Linked DNA regions of Homo sapiens: regions 1 and 3 are each linked to region 2. The links come from fine-mapping of genetic effects on gene expression. A gene starts in region 2. Each other region holds a variant in brackets. All regions are shown on one strand. Distances are between the middles of the regions.

The links. PIP is the estimated chance that this variant, and not a neighbour inherited with it, causes the effect.
Region 1: its variant is fine-mapped to the expression of INSIG1 in whole blood (TOPMed, PIP 0.94).
Region 3: its variant is fine-mapped to the expression of INSIG1 in whole blood (TOPMed, PIP above 0.99).

The regions. Positions count from the first base shown.
Region 1 is chr7:155,257,100-155,264,141 of GRCh38, forward strand. It overlaps LOC105375588 (a long non-coding RNA gene), which reads right to left. Exons shown (of 5, transcript XR_928227.3): 4 at 6,360-6,508; 5 at 5,794-5,833. Among named protein-coding and RNA genes, the nearest start is that of INSIG1, 37 kb to the right of the region's middle. The variant T/G (reference allele first, on the strand shown) is at 4,010.
Region 2 is chr7:155,293,438-155,300,479 of GRCh38, forward strand. It overlaps INSIG1 (insulin induced gene 1), which reads left to right and starts at 4,441. Exons shown (of 6, transcript NM_005542.6): 1 at 4,441-4,522; 2 at 4,822-5,260. The coding sequence starts at 4,849. It overlaps INSIG1-DT (INSIG1 divergent transcript), which reads right to left and starts at 5,543. Exons shown (of 2, transcript NR_183448.1): 1 at 4,714-5,543. RefSeq lists enhancers at 3,437-3,486, 5,897-5,966 and a silencer at 3,947-4,776.
Region 3 is chr7:155,203,230-155,210,271 of GRCh38, forward strand. LOC124901783 (a long non-coding RNA gene) reads left to right here and starts at 2,475. Exons shown (of 2, transcript XR_007060603.1): 1 at 2,475-2,598. It overlaps LOC124901786 (a long non-coding RNA gene), which reads right to left and starts at 6,816. Exons shown (of 2, transcript XR_007060606.1): 1 at 6,668-6,816; 2 at 5,903-6,385. RefSeq lists enhancers at 2,037-2,216, 2,227-2,276, 2,307-2,376, 2,407-2,656, 5,586-6,095 and a silencer at 5,730-6,024. The variant G/A (reference allele first, on the strand shown) is at 3,239.

The DNA of each region.
Region 1 (7,042 bases), 36 kb before region 2:
CTGTTAGACATAAAAGAATCAAAGTGAAAAAACAAAGATGCAAAGCCCTGGGATTGTTAAAAAGTTAATTGCTCAGTGTTGGCCTAAATGACAGAAAAGTCCCCAACTTCCTCAAGGTCAGAATTTTACGTGTAAAAAAGGAAACCTTGAGAATTTAGAAAACACTTGCCTCAAATAAGCATCATTAGCCATTGCACCAGTGGCTTCTACACACCAGGTTAAGCCACATCAAAGAACTCCCACGCTCCTAGACCCAGAAAAATAGAAGAAAATAATTAAACAAAGTAATTGGAAGCGCCTGGCAAGGTCAAAGTACCAGGAAATGTCCTTGAGTAAAAAGAAGCCTGGGACTAAGCTGAGCACATCTAAAATCTCTCATATCCAAAGCCTGTATTTTCCTTGGCACGGGAGATGGAGAACTTGATCCTGACCATTGACAAGGAGGCCAGGAGGCTAAATCCGCCACATGCAGGCTTCCTCCTAATACCCTGACGGGACTTCCGGCTTCTGTAAACTTCTGTGGGAAGTAGGCACACGCCGACTTGGGGAAAGTTGACCAGGGTAAGCCTAGAGGAGGGACAATATTATAAACTGTGTGGAAGGTCCCCTGAGACGTTCACAGACTCAGAGGGAGGAGCGGCAGTGCGGACTTGAAAGCAATCCAGGCGGAGCTGCCAAGAGGCTTAGCCACAAGCACGGATCCAGCCACAGAGCTGGGGCGAGGCTGTGAGGAGCAAGCCGAGCCATGGCATGCCGCTCGGTGGTGGGGGAATCTGGCGGCACTGTCCAGGAAGAGCCCCTCTGCCTCCCCGGAAAGCTCCCACCGATGATCCACTGAGATGCACAGACACGACCCAGAGGCCGGCTGGGCTGATCCCACACGTGGCTGGTGGCCAAGGGACTCAGCCGTCCACACCCAGCCACACACAGGAGGCTCGTCCTATGAGACCCTCCTAGGATCCTCGCTCCTGATGTGTCCTCATTCGGCCTGAGCAGTCGCGGCCATCTCGCCTCAGGCTGTCCCCATCTTGCCTCCTACCCACCCCCACGGTCTCCCACTGGCTCGAGCCCCTGCCCTCCCCAGGTCACTTCCAGGTCTGTCTCCATCTGGCTGTGCCACTGTGCTCCCAAGGCCTCCCCAGGGAGCCGTCCCTGCAGGGGACATGTGGCATGGTTTTGCTTTGTAGTCGTGATCTTGGAGAGAGACACTATGCCCTAATCTCAAAGACAGTCCCTAAGGCTGTGAATGTCAGGCCCTTACCAGGCCTGGTGGTAGCAACTATTTCAGAGTAGGCACATTCTTTGGGCTCCTTCCAACCACACGCATGAGTAACACTGGGCCTGCCCAGGGTGAAGATCCAGTGGAAGACATCATGTGGATGAATTCAAGCTGGAAAATAATCCCAATGACATGAATATTTCAACCTAAACTTTGATTTGTACCACAATTATATTTTTTCTGATTACAAAAGTAATGCAATGGCATTGTAAGGGATTAAAGCCTTGTTTTATATGTATATAATTTTTTTTTTTTTGAGACGGAGGCTCGCTCTGTCGCCCAGGCTGGAGTACAGAGGCGCGATCTTGGCTCACTGCAAGCTCCACCTCCTGGGTTCACGCCATTCTCCTGCCTCAGCCTCCCGAGTAGCTGGGACTACAGGCACCCACCACCATGCCCGGCTAATGTTTTGTATTTTCAGTAGAGATGGGGTTTCACCGTGTTAGCCAGGGTGGTCTCAATCTCCTGACCTTGCGATCCACCTGCCTCGGCCTCCCAAAGTGCTGGGATTACAGGCGTGAGCCACCATGCCCGGCCTATATGTATATAATTTTTGTAGACTTGTTCTTTCAATATACCTCCAGGAAGAAACACAGCCTAAATTTACATGAATATGTTTCTGGACTTCTTTCTTCTCCTCCTCCTCCTCCTCCTCCCCTCCTCCTCCTCCTCCCCTCCTCCTCCTCCTCCTTCCCTCCTCCTCCTCCTTCCCTCCTCCTCCTCCTTCCCTCCTCCTCCTCCTTCCCTCCTCCTCCTCCTCCCCTCCTCCTCCTCCTCCCCTCCTCCTCCTCCTTCTTCTTCCTCCTCCTCTCTCTCTCTCTGTCTCTCTGTGTCTCTCTCTCTTCTCTGTGTGTGTGTGGATGTGTGTGTACTCACACAACAGAGCTCTGGAGATGCATGCAGCACACGCATATGTAGATATAACCACTATAAGGACAATATCCTAAGAGCTGAGTGTCCAGGTCACTGATTTTCCTTTCCTTGTTTCGTTGCAAACTCAGGGTGTCACACCTGGGCCGTGTGGAGGCTGAGGGATGGGTGAGGACAGATGGGGATGGGCACCCTGCTGTTGTCTGAGGGCCGTCAGCAAGTCTCTCAATTGGTGATACGTATGGACCTGGGTCCTCATGAGAGCCATCCTAATCTTTTCTCAGTGATGCAACACCGTCTGTTTCCATGCCATCAGTCTTATTACAGGATGATGGCCAAGGAGCTCATCTGAACTGCCAGGTGAACAGTGGGGCCCTACCACATCCCCATCTACCCATAGCTTGGTTTGGGTTCACGGTGCCAAAATCATATCCCCAAGTTATAGTATAGGCTCATTGCCAAGGGAGTTTTCTTGTAAACACTCCCTGGCCCTGGGAACCCTTCTCTGACCTAAAGGAGGCATCGCTGGACTAGGTTCCGGGTAATGCAATCACCTAGTGACCCGTGTCCCCAGCCTGTTCTCAGGTCCTTTGCATTTTCCTCAATGTCCTTCCTGCTCATGCCCTCAGGCCCCTGCTTTTGGGATGTGTGGCCAGCAAGCCCAGTGCAGGAAGTACTGAGCTGCCGACTGCCACTCCACAGAATCACAGGACAGAGCCTCCCAGAGGCAGTAAGTGCAGCGTGGGCTGGAGGAGGCCACCTGCTCCGTTGTGATGAGGGCTGGCCTCTGCTGTGCTTTGATTTATGAGCAATCATGTGTTCACAAAGTACCTACTACTATGTGACCAGTGCAGCAGCCAGCAGGGTCTGCATAACAGTGGCTGCAAGCTCTCCACCCAGACTCCTGCCCTCGTCCATGGGGATGAGGTTGGGGCAGCCTCCATGCAGTTAGCACCTCCTTCCACTCTCCCCCTCCAGCCAGCAGGAGCCACAGTGGGCCACAAGGAGGACTCTGCCCTGAAAGTGGCAGATCCCAGCCCAGGAGAACCTGGGTCCCTGGACGGCAGCCTGGGCCTGCACCCCTGACCCGGGCCGGCCCCCAGGAGCTGTCTTGTCAGCGAGCAGCACCCACGTTTTCAGGTTTCAGCAGCTTAGCTTTATCCTGACCGATGCTTGGCACTCAGGACACGCATCTGCTATCCCTGCTCTCCACTCCCCTAAATCTTGAGGACCGGTGTCCTCTCGGTTATAGCCTAAACTACAAGTGTCATCATCGTCTCTGTGCGTCGGTGGTCAGGAAGTTTGATTGTAGAATATCAGGATGAAACCTTTCCGCCAGCCTCGTTTTCCCTGGACGTGATGTCTGGAGTCAGAGTTAACAAGTCTCCTGCTTCCTGGCTGGAGGCTGCGGTCTTTATTCCTCAGAAGGGGGCCCAGACCGTTCCACTGTTGACATTGTGTCTTCGCAGACGGCTCAGTGGCTCCTTCAGGCTGTGCCCTGCTGTGAATCTCAGCCTCGACTCCAGCCTGGTGCAGGGGTGCAGGGCACAGAGCACACGCCACACAGTCACCGCAGGCCCTGAACCCAGTGGAACCTGCCCTGTGGGGCTGGGGTGTTGCTTAGGACCCGAGACAGCGTCTTCCCTCCAGTTTCTCCCCTTTGGAAGGGGACTGGCTTTCTTCTGCCTGTCCCACCATGGCATTTGGGAAGCAGATAACCTGTTTTCCAGACAGAAGATGCCACACCCTGTGAAGACATAGACTCTCAGGGAGAAGACCCCAGAGGACAGAGGCAGGGCTGGGGGTGACATGTCCACAGCCAAGGAACACCAAAGACACCAAGCCACCATAGTATGCCAG[T/G]AGAGAGGCCTGGAACAGACTCTCCCTCCCACCCTCGGAGGGAGCCTGCCCTGCCGACACCTTGACTTCAAACTTCCGGCTTCCAGGATGACGAGAGCATCAGTTGCCCTCACTTTAAGGTCTCAAGTTCTGTACATTCTGCACATTCCCAGAAAAGGTTGGTCACAGCAGCCTACAGTATTTCAGTTTAGCGTATTCTTCTGTGTTCAGTGCATATTCCCAACACGGTCTAGAACGCCCTTTACTTCACAAGCACAATTCCATAGTAAAACTTAATAATGGTGCTCTGGGCCAGGCCATTTGATCTGGCTGGACTGTGTTCCCTGGCTGTGCCCTGAATGTGTCACCTGCAGCCACACAGGGCGCCCTCTCATTCTTGCACTGACCCAGCTCCTAAACAGCAGCTTTCCAGCAGTGGTTCCTGGACTTCCAGAGAGCTTTTCTGCCACAGTGGACATTGCCATCCTTTTTTTGGCCACCAGGCATCTGAAATCCTTCCCAGTGTTTGGTGAATCCTCCAACTCGTGACACAGGATCTGAACGTAGCTACACTACATTCAGAAAGTGCAGAGGCCAGCACTCGCTTTGCCCACAGGGGCACTCGCACCCATGAGCCTAGCTGCAAGCCTACCCTGCCGGGAAGCTAGTGACTCCCAGAACTCAGACGGCTCAGACACCACCCTGGATGGCCACGCCGTTCCCATGGGCAGAGGTGTCAGCAGGTCTAGCGGCAGCCTGCAGCCTCTAGCCTGAGGTCCCTTCTGTGTGTGCAGCCAGTAGTGCTGGTGGTAGAGACTTCCCTGAGCGGGTCCCAGTGTCCTTTTTCCCAGCATCTTTCTCGCTGTGGTAGGCTAGGAAACTCGTTCTCCTCCCCACGCCACCTCCATTCCTTGAGCTAGACAATATATAATTCTTTTAATAATCGCTTTAATAATTTAAAGGAATATTTAAATACTCTTTTAACAATTCCTTTTCTGCTTCAGTTACCCAGAGCTGTGTTCTGCCACCTCCCACTGAGAACCGTAAGTGGTTCTTTCCTCCGTAAGCACATACTCCTGTTTGACATGAAAATGTCAGCAGAGATTTTTCGGCGTGATCTAAAGAATGCGATCTTGGCGGCCGTCTACCACACAAGGAGGAGGGCACGTGTGGATTTCCTGGCCTTGCACAGTTGGTGATGAAAGCGGAGTTGCCTAGTGATCAGCTGACTTGTGATCAATTACAATAATGATGGAATTTCAAGGTCAATGTCGTGCTGGTTTTTTTTTTTTTGCGAGCTCATCTTTTCTGCTTAAGGAGAAAATGCTAGATAAATGCATCTCCATGTGGGCCTGGACCTCTCCATGTTGCTCTGTCTTGTCTGTGGATGTTTGACAGAGACCGGAAGACCTGCAGACCAGCCTGCCAACACCGTCTGTCAATGGGGTGCCACTTTCACGGCCCTCCCCTTCCCATCAGCCTTAGCCCAAATCACCCTCCAAAATCACCAACCATAGGAAACATCTTTAATGTAAACTAATTCCTTCACACTGAAAATGTTTACAATTTAGCTGGGTGCGGTGGCTCACACCTCTAATCCCAGCACTTTGGGAGGCTGAGGCGGGCAGAAGGCTTGAGGTCAGGAGTTCAAAACCAGTCTGAGCAACATGACGAAACCCTGTCTCCACAAAAAATTTAAAAAATTAGCTGAACATGGTGGCACATGCCTCTGGTCACAGCTACTTGGGAGGCTGAGGTGGGTGGATTGCTTGAAGCTGGGAAGTTGAAACTGCAGTGAGCCAAGATTGCACCACTGCACTCCAGCCTGGGCAGCAGAGAAGGACCCTGTCTCAAAACAAACAAACAAAAACCAAAAATGAAATAAAATGCTTACTGTCGGCCCCCTTTCTCTGCAGAGGTCCAGATGAGGAGCCTCTAATCAAGGTGGTGACTGGGCCACACAGCCACGCCCTTCCCTCGGGGTGAGCCCTTCCCTAGGGGTGAGCCCTTCCCTGGGGTGAGCCCTTCCCTCGGGGTGAATCTTTCCCTTGGGGTGCACCCTTCCCTCGGGGTGAGCACTTCCCTCTGGGTGCAGCCTTTGCTCGGGGTGAGCCCTTCCCTCGGGTTGAGCCCTTACCACAGGGTGCGCCCTTCCCTAGGGGTGAGCCCTTCCCTCGGGGTGAAACTTTCCCTTGGGGTGCGCCCTTCCCTCAGGGTGAGCACTTCCCTCTGGGTGCAGCTTTGGGGTGAACCCTTCCCTCGGGGTGCAGCCTTCACTCAAGGGTGAGCCCTTCCCTGGGGGTGCAGCCTTCGCTGGAGGGTGCATCCTCCCCTCGGGGTGCGCCGTGGCACATGTTGCCTCTCCACTCACTGCTCTTTCTTGGCTGCCTCCTTCCTGGTGAGTCCTTTCCCGCTGTTGCTCACTATCTGCGGATTTCTGATCACTTGTCTTCCCTCTTGAGCTTGGTGAACAGACCAGGAGGAGGGCACAGGATGACCCCCATGGCTCCCCGAACATTTCTAAGACCAAAACCAAAAAGCCCAAGGGGAGAGGACCGGACCCCACTCAGGGCTCAGAAAGCTGATGCCTGGCGCCCCGCAGTGGCGTGGGGTGGTCTTGCGTGGCTGTGGACCCCTCAACCAGGCAGGCGAGAGCAGGGAGGGAAGTGGGTACAAGTGAGCAAGTGTGTGAGTGTGTGGGAGTATGACTGTTAGTGTGTGTGTGTCTGAGTGTATGTGTGACTGTGTATGTGTGTCTGAGTGTTAGTGTGTGTGTGAGTGCGTGGGAGTTTGTGTGTCTGAGTGTAAGTATGTGTGTCTGAGTATATGTGACTGCGTATGTGTGTCTGAGTGTTAGTGTGAGTGTGTGTGTCTGCGTGTTCGCGTGTGTCTGAGTGTATGTGTATGTGTCTGAGTATGTGTGACTGTGTATGTGTGTCTGAGAGTTAGTGTGTGTGTGTCTGCATTTAGTGTGTGAGTGTGTGTCTGAGGGTTAGTGTGTGTGTCTCAGTGTTAGTGTGTGGGAGTGTGTGTGAGTGTGAGTGGGTGTCTGAG
Region 2 (7,042 bases):
GTTAGGAGATTTTTCATGCAGACACCATTGAGTGCATTTACATAAATTGAGACAGTAGAGCCCACTACACACCTAGGCTGGAGGGCATTCCTCGTACACCTGTGCAGCATGTGACTGTACTGCATACTGTGGGCAAGTGGAACCCAATGGCGAGGATGTGTGCATCTACACATATCTAAACGTAGAAGAGGTGCAGTAAACATATGGCATTACATGGGCCCACCATCGTATATGCAGCCTATCACTGATGGAAATGTCATCGTGCAGTGTATGACTGTATTAGAATCAGGAAAACTGAAAGAGTTAATGAAGGAGGGGTAAACTGGGGCCAGTAAGAGACGGAAGATAGAGAGCTACCAGATGCATTTCTTTTCTTTCTTTTCCCCCAAAGGACTGTTCTTGCAAGGCATGGTGGGTCTCCACAGCCTGTACAGAAGGTACCCTGTGTGACTAGCAACCACATGTCACGCAACAGCCATGGTCGGCTCAGTGAGGTGACCCTCACCATAGCTTCTCCTTCACTGCTTCACTCACCTCTTTCCCTCACTCTTGGGGGATTGTGCTTTCATGGCAAGTAAGCTAAGGCACTTCCCTTCATAGACAAACACTATTCTGCTTTTGAAAACGATGACATACCACTTCACATCCACTGAGATGGCTAGAATCAAAAACTCAAGGAATAACAAGTGTTGGCAAAGATGTGGAGAAATCAGAACCCTCATACCCTGCTGATGGAGGTTTAAAATCATGCAGCTGCTTTGGAAAAAGTCCAGCAGTTCCTCAAATGATTAAACATAGAGTTACCATGTGACCCAGCAAGTGCACTCCTAGTAACTCCACCCAAGAGAAATGAAGAGCTACACCCACATGGATGAGCTTGTGCACATTTATAGCAACATCATTCGTAATAGCCGAAAAGTGAGAACAACCCAAACGTCCACTAGCTGGTGAACGGATAATCAAAATGTGGCCTCTCCATACAATGGAACATTATTCAGCCATAAAAAGGGATGAAGTGCTGACATATGCTATGACATGGATGAACCTTGAAAACATTATGTCAACAAAGCCAGTCACAAAACATCACATATTATACGATTCCATTCATACGAATGTCCAGAACAGGAAATCCATAGAGACAGGAAGTAGATCAGTGGTTGCCGTGGGCTGGGGGTGGAAGTCGGGATAAGGAGGCAATAACTAAAGCATATGAAGGTCTTTTCTGGGGTGATGAAAATGTTCTAAAATGGACTGTGATGATAGTTGTACAACTCTGTGAATACACAAAAAAACACTGAATTCACCGTTTAAATGGGTGAATTGCACAATGCATGAATTCGCCCTCACTAAAGCTATTAAAAAATGGCGTAGTCTGTATTGATTGCCTTTAAAAGACGTTCATGATCACTTAATAACTGGTTCCACTAATGTGAAGTTGATCCTATTTGTGTTTTTTTAAACACATTTATGGATAGAAAAAATATTTGGAAATACATACCTCAAAATGTTAACAATGGTCATCTCTAGTTGGTAGGATTATAGACTATTTCTTTAAAATATATTTTTCCACGATGTTTTACAATGAGCATGTGATGCTTTTATATGAAAAAATATATATTTGGTAATCTACTTTATCTTAAGAATATTTCTTACAAATGGTTATTAATGTTATAATAAAAAGAACAGTAAGAACAGACTAAAGGCAAGATTGCTCACTACGTGACACCTCCCAGTCTTTAGGCCTTTATGAGTGCATGATTCTTCCGTATCCGAAAGAGCTACAGCCGTCCTGTGCTCCCTTCCGCCAGCCTGTTCAGTACAGAGGCCACCAGTCTGAGGGTTACTTAGTGATCTGGGAAGGCACGGCGAGGTGTTTAACTCAACAATAGTCAACTCCCCTAGAGTAAGGCCACATCTGTGATGATTTCTGTATTGTGGGGCAATTAAGAACTAAACGGTGCCATCATGAGCAGATTTCCCTAAATGCTGAACTCAGAGTGGCTGACAGGGGCTGAAGAGAATGAACCCCATTATCTTCAACACACGGCCCACGATTAGCAGGGAAACAAAATCAACAACAGCTTTGCTTGAGGATAAGCAAATTTCAACCCCTGAAAATCTTGGAATGTGGTTACTGATATGGAGGCTCGGTCTTCAAAGGGGGTATTCAAGGGGGTAAACTCAAACTCTCCCACTGTCTTTACCCCAGGCTGCATTTCTTCATGGGGCCAGACTCCACAGGCACCTGGGCAAACACACATTGGGAACGCAGTGACAATCTCTACCTACGACTCAGAGGCCACGCTGGAGGCCCTCAGCAGGAACCCCACGGGCAACCTTCCCACATTCCCACGGGACATCTTGGTCGGTGTAAGTGCAACAGCCACAGAGCCACAGGGTGCCTCTATGACTCCAGGATCTTCCATGGTTCATAATGTCCCAGTACAGATGAGAGGAGGGACAGAGTCAGAGAGGCTGGGTTGTATGAACACTGGTTTATTAGGTAGATAGGAAAAGAAGAATGAAGTCAATAGTCTTTAGCAAGCCAACTAGCTCAAGGAATAGACAGCCCCTTTCCATTCTGGAGACAACACATAAATCTATTAATATTAAATATTGTCATGAGGTATGCACCTGCCCACAGGGGTATTATGATGGAAATACTGGGGTAGTCTGCAGGGCCAGGTACAAATGACGGGAAACAAAGCCAGAGAAACTGAAATACCTCTTGGACCCCAGAAGACAGATGTACTGATTTCTGGGATGTCAGGAGCCCAGTGCAGAGCAGCTGGATAGGTCGCTAAGAGCTTTCCCTTCTGCTTATCGGGTCTCACACACCTGGATAAACCAGTTATTGAAAGCTGACCTGCTAATGAGAAGCTTCTGGCACTTGCTGGTGTTTCCTAATTGAATGGGTGACTGCCCCGCATCTCAGGGCCGGGGCTCCCGTGCGGACGCCTCTCCATGAGGTTAGCAGCTTGATTTAGATCAGCGTGCGGGACGGGGAGCTCACAGTGGGGTCGAGGAGACACAGCACAGGCTTCTGAAAGGTGCCCTGTCCATTAGGGAGCACCCCATTTACAGATGGGTCATCCTTCAGCTCACTAGTTTCCCAGCGCATGACAGTGGGTAGCTTTTTTTTTTCCTATTATAAACAAATCTTCGATGTGACTGCGATGATCTACGGATGATCTACGTATCTGGTTGTGTGATCCTCAAGCACTTATGCAAGGTGGAGTGTAAACAATGGCCAAGACCCAAACTGCAATGTTCCCTGAAGTCCAACCTGCTTGGAGTCCTTGGGAACGTGTACAATGGTTAACAGGCTTGAGAGGAGTCAGCTGGGAGAGTGAGAGCGAGACTGCCCTGCAGAGGGGCCGCTGAGGATGGACCCCTGTAGGCCGTCCACACCCACCACGCGTGTCATCCTCAGGAAATGCAACCGGATGCTCGGAATTTCGCCCCTAAAGCGACTCAGGGCAGTCTCAGCTCAGGAAGACTTCTTTTTTTGACCTTCTGGCTTAAAGCCACAACCCCAGGCTGAGGATGCCACATCAACGGCGTTTCCTCGCCACGCTGCAGGCGTGACTCACGTTTCTAAGCCTGCAGGGTCCCCGGGCCAAGCGCGGCTACTGAGAGCACAGCGTCCTCCCTCAGCCCCTGCTCATCTGCACGGAGCAAAGCCGCAGCTTTCTCTGCTGTCAGCGCTTTATACGACTCGGATGTAGGCTCTGAGCGGGCACGGGCCCGCCCTCAGACGGCGACCCGAGGGGCAAACAGGATGGAGGCGCGCTCCCTTGGAGGCTGTGGTCTCGATTTTATCTGCTCCTGGGTGGTGCGGGTGGTTTGCTCTCTAGGCGTGAGCAAAGGCCACAAGGGGCCCGAAAAAATCACCCAAGGATGCAAGCCCGCCATTGCGCTGAGCAGGGGCCTCCCCGCCGCCAGAGCCCGCGCCCCTCCAGGGAGGCCCGCGCGATCGAGACCCGCCGCCTCCCGGCCAGGCGCGGGACACCAGGCGAGGGGAGCCAGGAGCCGGGAGGGGCGGCGCCGGGCCCGCAACCCCACCCTGTCCTGCCTCCGCCTCCTCCCGGCAGGACCGTCCCCTCCCAGGCCCCAGCTCCGCGGCCGCCCACTCGCAGCCGGCCAGTCCCGCTCGGGCCCGCGTGCCCCGCAGCCGCCACGCGCCCCGCAGTCCGTGCCGAGGCTCCCGCCCGAGTGCGCGCGGGCCGGCGGTGGCGTGTGCGCACGTCATATGGGCCGCCGGCCTCCCATTGGTTGCGGCCGCCTCACCAGACCGCGTGCGGACGGGCTCGCGGGCGGGGCGGGGCAAGCTCAGGCCACGCCCCTGGGCGGTGCGCGCGGGCGGTGGGTAGGCCGGGCAGGCTCACGTGATGCGGGCCCCGCGGCCCGCCATATAAACCCGCGCGCCCGCCAGGCGCTGCGGCCGTCCCGGGCCGTGACTCCTCCTTTCCCCCGCCCCGCCTCCGTTCGGAGAGCCGGCGGGCGGGCGCCTCTCGGCCAGGTACGCGGCCGGCTGGGATAGGGGTCGCGGGCGGGCTTTGGTCGCGCAGCAGCCGGTCCTCCCCGGAGGTAGGCGGGCGCGGGCCCTGTTGGGTCTTTGGGACGCGGGTCCCGCTGGGGCCGGGGATGCTGCTCGCTGTGAGCGCGGGTCCCGTCCGCCGCTGGCCCCGGGCGGGCGCACGGGGGTCTAACCTTGGGGGGCGGCGCTGCCGCCTGGCCCGGGTGCCGGGGTTCGCGTCCCGCGGGGCCTTCCTCGCTCTTTGTCTCTTCTGAGTGAACTTGATGACCCCCTTCTTCCAGGAAGCGCCTCTTGGACGCGTGTGACCGATGCCCAGATTGCACGACCACTTCTGGAGCTGCTCCTGTGCGCACAGCGCGAGGCGCCGAGGCCCCCCGCGAGCCAGCGCCGCGGGGCTGGCGGCCAAGGTTGGGGAGATGATCAACGTTTCCGTGTCCGGGCCCTCCCTGCTGGCGGCCCACGGTGCCCCGGACGCTGACCCCGCGCCCAGGGGCCGCAGTGCTGCGATGAGCGGCCCCGAGCCCGGCAGCCCCTACCCCAACACCTGGCATCATCGCCTGTTGCAGAGGAGCCTCGTGCTCTTCTCGGTTGGGGTGGTCCTAGCCCTGGTGCTCAACCTGCTGCAGATCCAGAGGAATGTCACTCTCTTCCCCGAGGAGGTGATCGCCACCATCTTTTCCTCCGCCTGGTGGGTCCCTCCCTGCTGCGGGACAGCAGCTGGTGAGTACCCCTCCTGGTTCTTCTGGAAGTAAAAAGGGTGTCTTTTCGGTTGAAAGTACTTTTCAGCCTATAAGAAACATGCATTTGAAACTGGAACTATCCACAGATTGAAAGTGTGCATCTCCAGTCTTGGGATTTAGAGAAATGAAGGAGGGGTAGAGAGGACCTGGCACCCCCGAGGGCGGGTTCGGGCCACAGCTCTCTGAAGTTTGAGGAAGCACAGTGATGGAGATGAGGCAGGGAGATAATTGGCTGTTCAAGCAGGTGCTGTGCCAAGCTGACTGAGGGCCCTTCCCTCCTGGCGTCCGGGTACAGCCCCAGCTGTCATCCCGCGCCAGCCGCCCCGGATTGGCCGCCTGGGGAACTGGTGAGCAGCGGGACTGAAAGGCCATTGGTCGCGGCAGCAAACATGCTACCCTGCTGGATAACTGAAAACAAACCCGTCACATGGGTTCAGGAGGCGGTTGCCAGGGGAGCAACTTCTCAGCACTTCCTTTTGCCGGGTCGCTGAGTAAACTGTGGTCTGAAGCCAAACCGCCTACACCCTGAACTGTTAGAGCTCTGTAGATTACGTTCTTAAGGAAAAGAGTAACCCCCTTACGGCGTTTAGATTTTCGTACACCCAAGCAGTAGCATAGATGCTGTACAACGTAACACTGAGTCAGTCTGAACTGTGGACACGGGGACTGCTGGGTGTGTGTACTAGACTTTCTTGGCTATCATTGAACCGCTTTTATAGAAATGTTGAGTTGATCTTGGCTCAGCAGATCACTTACTGCTCCTGTAGTCACACAGCATTTGTTTATTTAACGAGCTTGTCGGGTGCTTTCTGCAACCTCAACTCTATAAGCTGTTGAAATGTTAATCCAAAAGTGAGCACCACAAGCCCCTATCCTTAAGCAGCTTAGAGTCTGGTGGGGAAAACAAACCAGTATGTCAGTGACTCCAGTGCAGTGCAGGGAGCATCCTGTTTGCTTTGTGGCTGACGTTTGTCAGCTGACTGCTGACCATAGGCTTCAGATGCTTTGCTGTGTTCATTCCTTACAGCAATACCATGTGTAGCTTCATTTATAGATGTGGCAACTGAATCACAGGTGAAGTCACATCCAAGGGTGCGCAGGTAGAAAGGGGCCAAGCCATCGTTGGTAACTGCTCCTGCTGCCTTGGTAGGTGTGTCTCCTGCACTGTGGAAACACATTGCCTCAGTTGACTCACTGAAAACAGCAAGCAGCAGAGAGGTTTGTAGCAGATTAACAGAGGGCTCCGTGTTGAAGAACTAGGACAGGTGTCTGTAATTATTAAGTAGTGGGTAGAATGTTTTCATATTTGTTCTCGGAGGGACGGGATCCTCTTTCGTTTTTCGAAACACTTTATGTGGCTGTACTAATTGAACATTTTTTGAGAACTATATCTAGATTTAAAATTCCATGTTTCATATACATTTGGCAGAATAGTTTCTTTCCTTTAACCAAAAACTTGATCTTAGAAATGAAATAGTTTAGCCTTCAGTATTTGTAATTGGATCCTCAAGGGTTTCTAGGAATATCTGGACAATTTCTCATACTCTCATATTCTACTTTTTTTTAAACCATCAGCCAAGAGCATAAGTAAAATTTTTCATAGTATGTTTTTTACCTATTTATTTATTAAGCTATAGTGAAGTAAAGTTAATTTGGGGGGTCCATTTTTCAGAACTCCAAAATTAGAACCTGATGAAGTATAATAAATTGAAAACAACATTTTTTATCTGAATGTTTGATGCAAACTGTGTTTCTTGTTTCT
Region 3 (7,042 bases), 90 kb before region 2:
GGTCCTCATGGTGGAGTTCCCCCTCCCTGCTCTCCCTTGGCCCTGTGGGTGCATTTCCTGGCCTAGGGCTTTGTGGAGTGAACAGTGGCTCCTCCTGCTTTTGTGGGCCCCTAGCCAGTGAGGTGAGGCCAGACCTCCTGAGGGGAGGGTCCCATGTCCCCAGAGTCAGGGGTCGGGGTCAGGGGTTGAGGTCAGTGGGTCAGGTGGGTACATTGCAGTCAGCATGTACTCAGGACTGCCTGTGACCCAGAAAAGGCTTTCTCAGGCCTATTCCCACCCGCACCAGCCTGGAGAGAGCTCTGTCAGGCTGAGGTGGAATTTTCCGGAGCCCCGGGGGCTGTGCAGGTGCGGGAGGGAGAGTCTGTCAGGCTGAGGTGGAATTTTCCAGAGCCCTGGGAGGAGGATTCCCAGCATCAGGTGAGCGGTGACTTCTGACGCACTGTGGAAGCTACAGGCAGGGCTGAGTCGGCGGCAAGGAGCAGGACCTCCTGTTAGAAAGTCCCAGAAAGAAACAAACCCTCGGGGACCACCCAGAAGGCCAGGATCATCCGAGGGGCCGCCCCGTGGGGTCTCCATGGCTGCACGTGCATCCTGAGGCCCAAGTCCTCCTCACAGTGGCTTCACTGGGTGCTGGGACTCTGCAGGGACCGAGCTGTTGGTGCTCCAGCATTCAGGGAGCTCCTGCCTTGGGGTGGACAGACAGCAGGTAAAGAAGCCTCATGCAGGGCAGCAGGGGATACCCTGGGAAGGAAAGTGAGGCAGGAAACAGACACTGGGCCAGTGGCTCCTGGTGAAGGGATGGGCACTCGGGGATCTCGGGGAGGGTCCAGGTGAGGACAGCAAGGGCAGAGGAGCCTGTGGGAGGGGTAAGCACGAGGGAGGCCGAGGCCCTGAGATGTGAGGCCCGCATCCTGCTGCAGGCGCTCTGCCTCCAGCAAGAGGTGGCTCTGGGGGACAGCTCTCCATGGGGGACAGCTCTCCATGGGCTTGGACACCCGTGCTCCCAGACAACAGCTTCTGCCGTGCTCCCAGATGAGAGCCAGAGCCCTGCCTATCGGGAGGCCACACTCATGCCCAAGACTTCTAGGCCTCAGCAGTGCTCCCAAGGGTGTGGCACCAGGTGAAGCAGGGCAGGTGTGTGGACCAGGTGTGCTGGGGGGGCAGAGGGAGGGCAGCACCCCGTGGGCCAGCTACCTCTTGTGTGGGCACACAGCACCTGTGCACTCAAGGTCACCCATGTGCACGCCGCCTCTCCACTCCTGGCAGCAGCCACCCTCGCACCATGTGGCTCTGTGTCCTGGCTCCACAGGGCTCCCTGCTGCTGCCAGGAGCAATTCCTGGAGTCCAGCATGTGGAGGTAGCAGGGCCTCTGCTGGCTTTGGGACTGGACCAGCAGCACTGCAGGTGCCCTGGCTCTCCCACCTGGGCACACCTGAGGCCTCTCGCCCTTATCTCCCAGGGCCCTAGCGGTTCCCCTCCACCATCCCATCCCAAAGCCTCACCTTTCCAGTGTAGCCCCAGGCCCCAGAGCAGGTGTATCCACTTTATTGTACACACAGCATTTGACTCAGAGCCCAAGACATGTATCTGATAGGAATAGGGCTGCTCTGGATGAGGGAGGGGGTGCCCAGCCCCCCAGCCTGGCTCCCCAGCACGCCCACTGCCCTGGCTCTGCGGAGCACCTTCCAGACCATATCAGAAGCCCTCAGGGAGGCCCCTGGACCCTGACATCCCCGAGACCCCCTGAGGGACCCACTTTGCTAGCTGCATGTCTGTGTCACACGGAACTGTCTCCATGCTCTGCAAGCAGGTGGAATGCAGGAGCAGGCAGGAAAACCCAGCTCTTCCAAGTCAGACACTGGAGAGCTCTGCAGACACGAAGACAATGCCATGCCTCCCCCTAAATGCTTTTTGTTTTGGAAAATATAGCTGTTCGTCATAAGGTATTTACGTTGACGTATGACAGGTTTATGATTGTTTTAATGAATTAATAGGTATTTTAAATGCTCTTAGTTTCGATTTCTAGTGTTTCTCATTGGTGATTTCTAACGTGGCATCGTGGCTGCATTCAACCCCCATAAACGCATGCTCCGTGGTGGCCTCCATAGCTCTTCAGACCCAATGTGTGAGTCCCGGGCTCCAGATCGTGTCTCAGCCCCTCCCTGCTCCCTCAGCCAATAGCCTGTGTCCGTGTGGCCCCTCCCCCGAGCTTCCCAGTGACGGAGGAAGGCAGACGCCGCGTGCTTTCCAGGCGCTGTCCTAAGCCCTTTGCAGATATGGAGCCACTTGACCCTCCTATAACGCGTGCAGTGGGTCCTATTACCCCCCCATTTACGGACCAAGGGCAGGGAGGTGGAGACACTGGCTGGAGGCCGCGCAGCAGGGAAGTGGCAGTCAGGAGGCAGCCCAGGCCCTCCCATCCGACTTCAGAGGCCAGACGCACGCCTTCTAGACGCTGACTCACAAGCCAAGTCACTCCTTCCTGACACTCACGCCACCATGTCCTCCCCAAAGTGCATTTGCATTTTAACAGCCATCTTCCGTGAGCTGACTCTGTGGTTTTCAGTCAGTGGTTTCCAGTCGGCTATTTGTCATAAGGTATTTACGCTGACGTATAACAGGATTATGAGTGTTTTAATGAATTAATAGGTATTTTAAATGCTATTTAAATGTACTACCTCAAAAGGCTGAGAAATGTGGGGCCTCTGTGTGGATGTGTCAGTGTGTGTGTCTCTGTGTGTGTCAGCGTGTGTGTCTGTATCAGTGTGTGTGTCTGTGTGAGAGTGCGAGAGTGTGTGTCCGTGAGAGTGTGTCAGTGTACGTGAGTCTGTGTGTCGTGAGTGTGTCTGTGTGTGCCCGCGTGTCAGTGTGTCTGTGTGTGTCAGTGTGTGTGAGTGGTCGAGAGTGTGTCCGTATGTGAATGTGTCAGTGTTTGTGTGTGTGTGTCAGTGTGACAGAGTGTGTGTGTTTGTGCCTGTGTGTCAGTGTGTCTGTGTGTGTCATTGTGTGTTTCTGTGTGTGAGAAAGTGTGTGTCCGTGTGTGTTAGTGTCTGTGTGTGTGTGTGTGAGTGTGTGTGTGCACGCATACACACGCATATAACTCTGCTGTGGCTTCTATAACAAAGTACCGTGGACCGAGCAGCTTGAACAACAGAAACTCCCTTCCCCGCAGTCCTGAGGTCCGGAAATCTGAGATCACGGCGTGGGCAGGGCTGGTTCCTCCTCAGGCCCCTCCGTG[G/A]CCTGCAGACGCCATCCTCTCCCTGTGTCCTCACGTGGTCATCCCTCTGTCAGCGTCTGCTTCCCAACTTTTTCTTCTTAGTCCGTTCTCACCTGGCTATAAAGAAGTCCCTGAGGCTGGGTAATTTATGAAGAAAAGCGCTTTAATTGGCTCAGGGATCTGCAGGCTGTACGGGAAGCGTGACGTCATCTGTCTCTGGGGTGGCCTCAGGAAACGTCCAGTCATGGCGGAAGAAGAAGGGGAAGCCAGCTCATCACAGGGGGAAGCAGGAGTGAGAAAGAGGAGGGGGGATGTGTCACACACTTTTAAAAGACCAGGACTCCTGTGAACCCAGGGCTCGAGCTCACTTATCACCAAGAGGCTAGCCCAGCCATTCATGAGGGATCCACCCCCATGATCCAAACACCTCCCTCCAATCCCCACCTCCAACACTGAGGATCACATTTCCACATGAGATCTGGGCAGGGACAAATACCCAAACTGCATCCTAAAGACACCGGTCAGATTAGATTAGGGCCCACTCCAAAGCCCTCATCTTAGTTTAGTTACCTCTTGAAAGACCCTGTTTCCAAATACAGCCACATTCTGAGGTCCTGGGGGTTAAGACTTCAACATATGGATTTGGGGGATACAACAAACGCCATTTGGGGGTCACAGTGACTGAGGGTGCTCCTGGATTTTGTTGGGGTGATGGTTGAGCAAGGTTGCTATTCACCCTTCAGTAGGTAGGACACCCCCCCAAGGGATATCTACCCAGCAAAACGCCAACAGTGTGCTCTCTCAGGAAGACTTCCTGAAAACAAAGAGCCAGGTAGAATCTCAGCACACGGCAGGTCGCTGGTTGATGTTTTCAAGAAGCAGCTTTGGGGGTTTCCTCAAATCCATCCAATGAGATTCCATCTCTTTTATCTGAGCATCTAGGATGTTCAAGGAGAAACGGCTCCGCTTTTTCCTGCTTCTCCAGGAATCCAGCTTAGTGGGTTTACCTGCCTCTGTCCAAGGTGCTCCGTTGTGAGTAGCCCCTGCCTCTGGGTGTGCAGGTGATTTGGGGACTGAGAGCTGAGGCGCTAAAGTTAAAATGGCTTAACGTGTGTGACTGTGTGTGAATGTGTGTGTGTACGCGTGTGTGCGTGCGTGTGTGTGTCTGTGTGTGGGAATGGGTGTGAGTGTGTATGAGTGTGTGTGGGAATGGGTGTGTGTGGGAGTGCATGTGTGTGGGAATGTGTGGGGGAATGGGTGTGTGTGGGAATGGGTGTGCGTACGTGTGTGTGTGGAAATCGGTGTGTGTGTCTTGTGTGGGAATGGGTGTGTGTGTGGGAATGGGTGTGTGTGTTACAGTGTGTGAGTGTGTGTGTGTGGGAATGGGTGTGAGTGTGTGGGAATGTGAGTGTGTGTGTGGGAATGGGTGTGAGACTGTATGAGTGTGTGTGGGAATGTGTGTGTGGGAATGTGAGTGTGTGTGGGAATGGGTATGTGGGAATGGGTGTGAGTGTGTGGGAACGTGAGTGTGTGGGAATGGGTGTGGGGGGAATGTGAGTGTGGGCATGTGAGTGTGTGAGTGGGAATGGGTGTGAGTGTGTGTGTGGGAACATGAGTGTGTGGGAATGGGTGTGAGGGGGGAATGTGAGTGTGGGCATGTGAGTGTGTGAGTGGGAATGGGTGTGAGTGTGGGTATGAGTGTGTCTGTGTGTGGGGAATGAGTGTGTCTGTGGGGAATGGGTGTGAGTGTGTGTGTATGACTCTGTGTGTGGGAATGGGTGTGAGTGTGTGGGGGGAATGTGAGTGTGTGGGAATGGGTGTGTGTGTATGAGTGTGTCTGTGTGTGGGGAATGGGTGTGTGTCTGTGTGTGTGGGAATGGGTGTGAGAGTGTGTGTGTGTCTGTGGGGGAATGGGTGTGTGTGTGTGTGGGAATGGGCCTGAGTGTGTCTGTGTGTGGGGGGAGGGAATGGGTGTGTGGGGGGAATGGGTGTGTGTGTGTCTGTGTGTGGGGGAATAGGTATGAGTGTGTATGTGTGGGGGGGAATGGGTGTGTGTGTGTGTGTAGGAATGGGTGTGTGGGGGAATGTGAGTGTGTGTGGGAATGGGTGTGTGTGGGAATGGGTGTGTGGGAATGGGTGTGTGTGTGGGAATGGGTGTGAGTGTGTGTGGGAATTGTGTGGGGATGGGTGTGAGTGTGTGTGGGGGAATGTGTGTGGGAATGTGTGTGTGGGGATGGGTGTGAGTGTGTGTGGGGGAATGTGTGTGGGAATGTGTGTGTGGGAATGGGTGTGAGTGTGTGGGAATGTATGTGGGAATGGGTGTGTGTGGGGGAATGGGTGTGTGTGGGAATGTGTGTGTGGGAATGGGTGTGAGTGTGTGTGGGAATGTGAGTGTGTGTGGGGAATGGGTGTGTGGGGGGAATGTGTGTGTGGGAATGGGTGTGTGTGTATGAGTGTGTCTGTGTGGGAATGGGTGTGAGTGGGGAATGTGAGTGTGTGTGGGAATATGTGTGTGTGTATGAGTGTGTCTGTGTGTGGGAATGGGTGTGAGTGTGTGAGAGGCTCTTTCTCAAGACTGTAGGAGTGGGGGCTTCTCCATGGGGACACTTTCAAAGGAGGAAGAAAGAACAAAGGAAGAAGGGTGGATTTCACTCCTTTCCTTGGAAATGAGTCATGACTGAACAATGAATTTGGGGAAATTTTATTGAATTTCATGCCACGGCCTTGGTGCAGGCACCACATGATCTACTACATTCGGGGCACATAGGTGACGCCCCCCAGCTGTGAGGGCAGGTGCCCCGAGACTGGGTGTGTGCTGGGCATTCCTGGCAGGCGTCACGTCCCCTTTGGCGGCAGATTGCTCCTGTGGGGCACTCTCCACCGCCTTCATGGGCCACGGTGAATGCCAGCCGTGACATCGGGGCAAGCTGCCCATCGAGGAAGCCGAGTCGGCTGTCTGCTGACCTGGCAGCCATGCCTGCTGGTGCTTCACTCCCTGCGAGCAAGGGGCTTAGGGACTGCTCTAAAGATTGGGGTCAGAATCCCAGACCCCAGGACCCCCCATCCTGGCCCGTCCTCAGGGAGAGCTGCCAACAGGGTCCCCACCCGTTCCTTCCTCTGCTTTCTTTCCACACTTGGAGCCAGCTTTCTTTTTTGTTGTTACAAAACCTGTATTGAAGAACAACAGACTCTAAGACAGAGGTCCCTCAATGTCATCACCAACCCCATCCGTGTTGGCGTCGGCCCTGTGCCTCCTGTTCCTGCCCGTGTGCATGTTCATTTTTACAGATTTATAATGACAAGAGAGGGTATTGTCCTCTCTTCCCTAAGTTTATGCCACGTGGACCTTCTCATTTTCGCTGGTGCCTTCCTTTCTCAGGAACCTCTTTCCCCCGCTCCCTTCCCCCTACCCTGCTCCATTCCCACCCCTCCCCCGCACCCTGCACACACCTTTCATGCCCCTGCTCCTATGAGCAAACACAGCATGCGTGGGGAGGGTCTTCACTACGGCTTCTCCTCCGCAGCTTGCTTAATTGCTCCGTGGTAATCAGGACCATCTCCCAGTTTGGGAACCGGATTCCTTCTGGGAGGTGGGGGAGCTGGAGGGGTAGGAGCCTCAGAGGAGCTGGAGTCCTGCTGAGACGCCCCACCCCCATCACCATCATCTCTCCCCCATCTTATTAGCAGGTTCCTGCCCCTGCACTTGGCGGTGTCTACCCAAGCTGCCTGAGCCGGCCATGTGAGCAGCGCCTCCAGTACCGCCACAGTGAAAGGGAGGCCGAGCATCCTGGAGCCCATGAACCCACACAGCCCCCATAAGCTGCC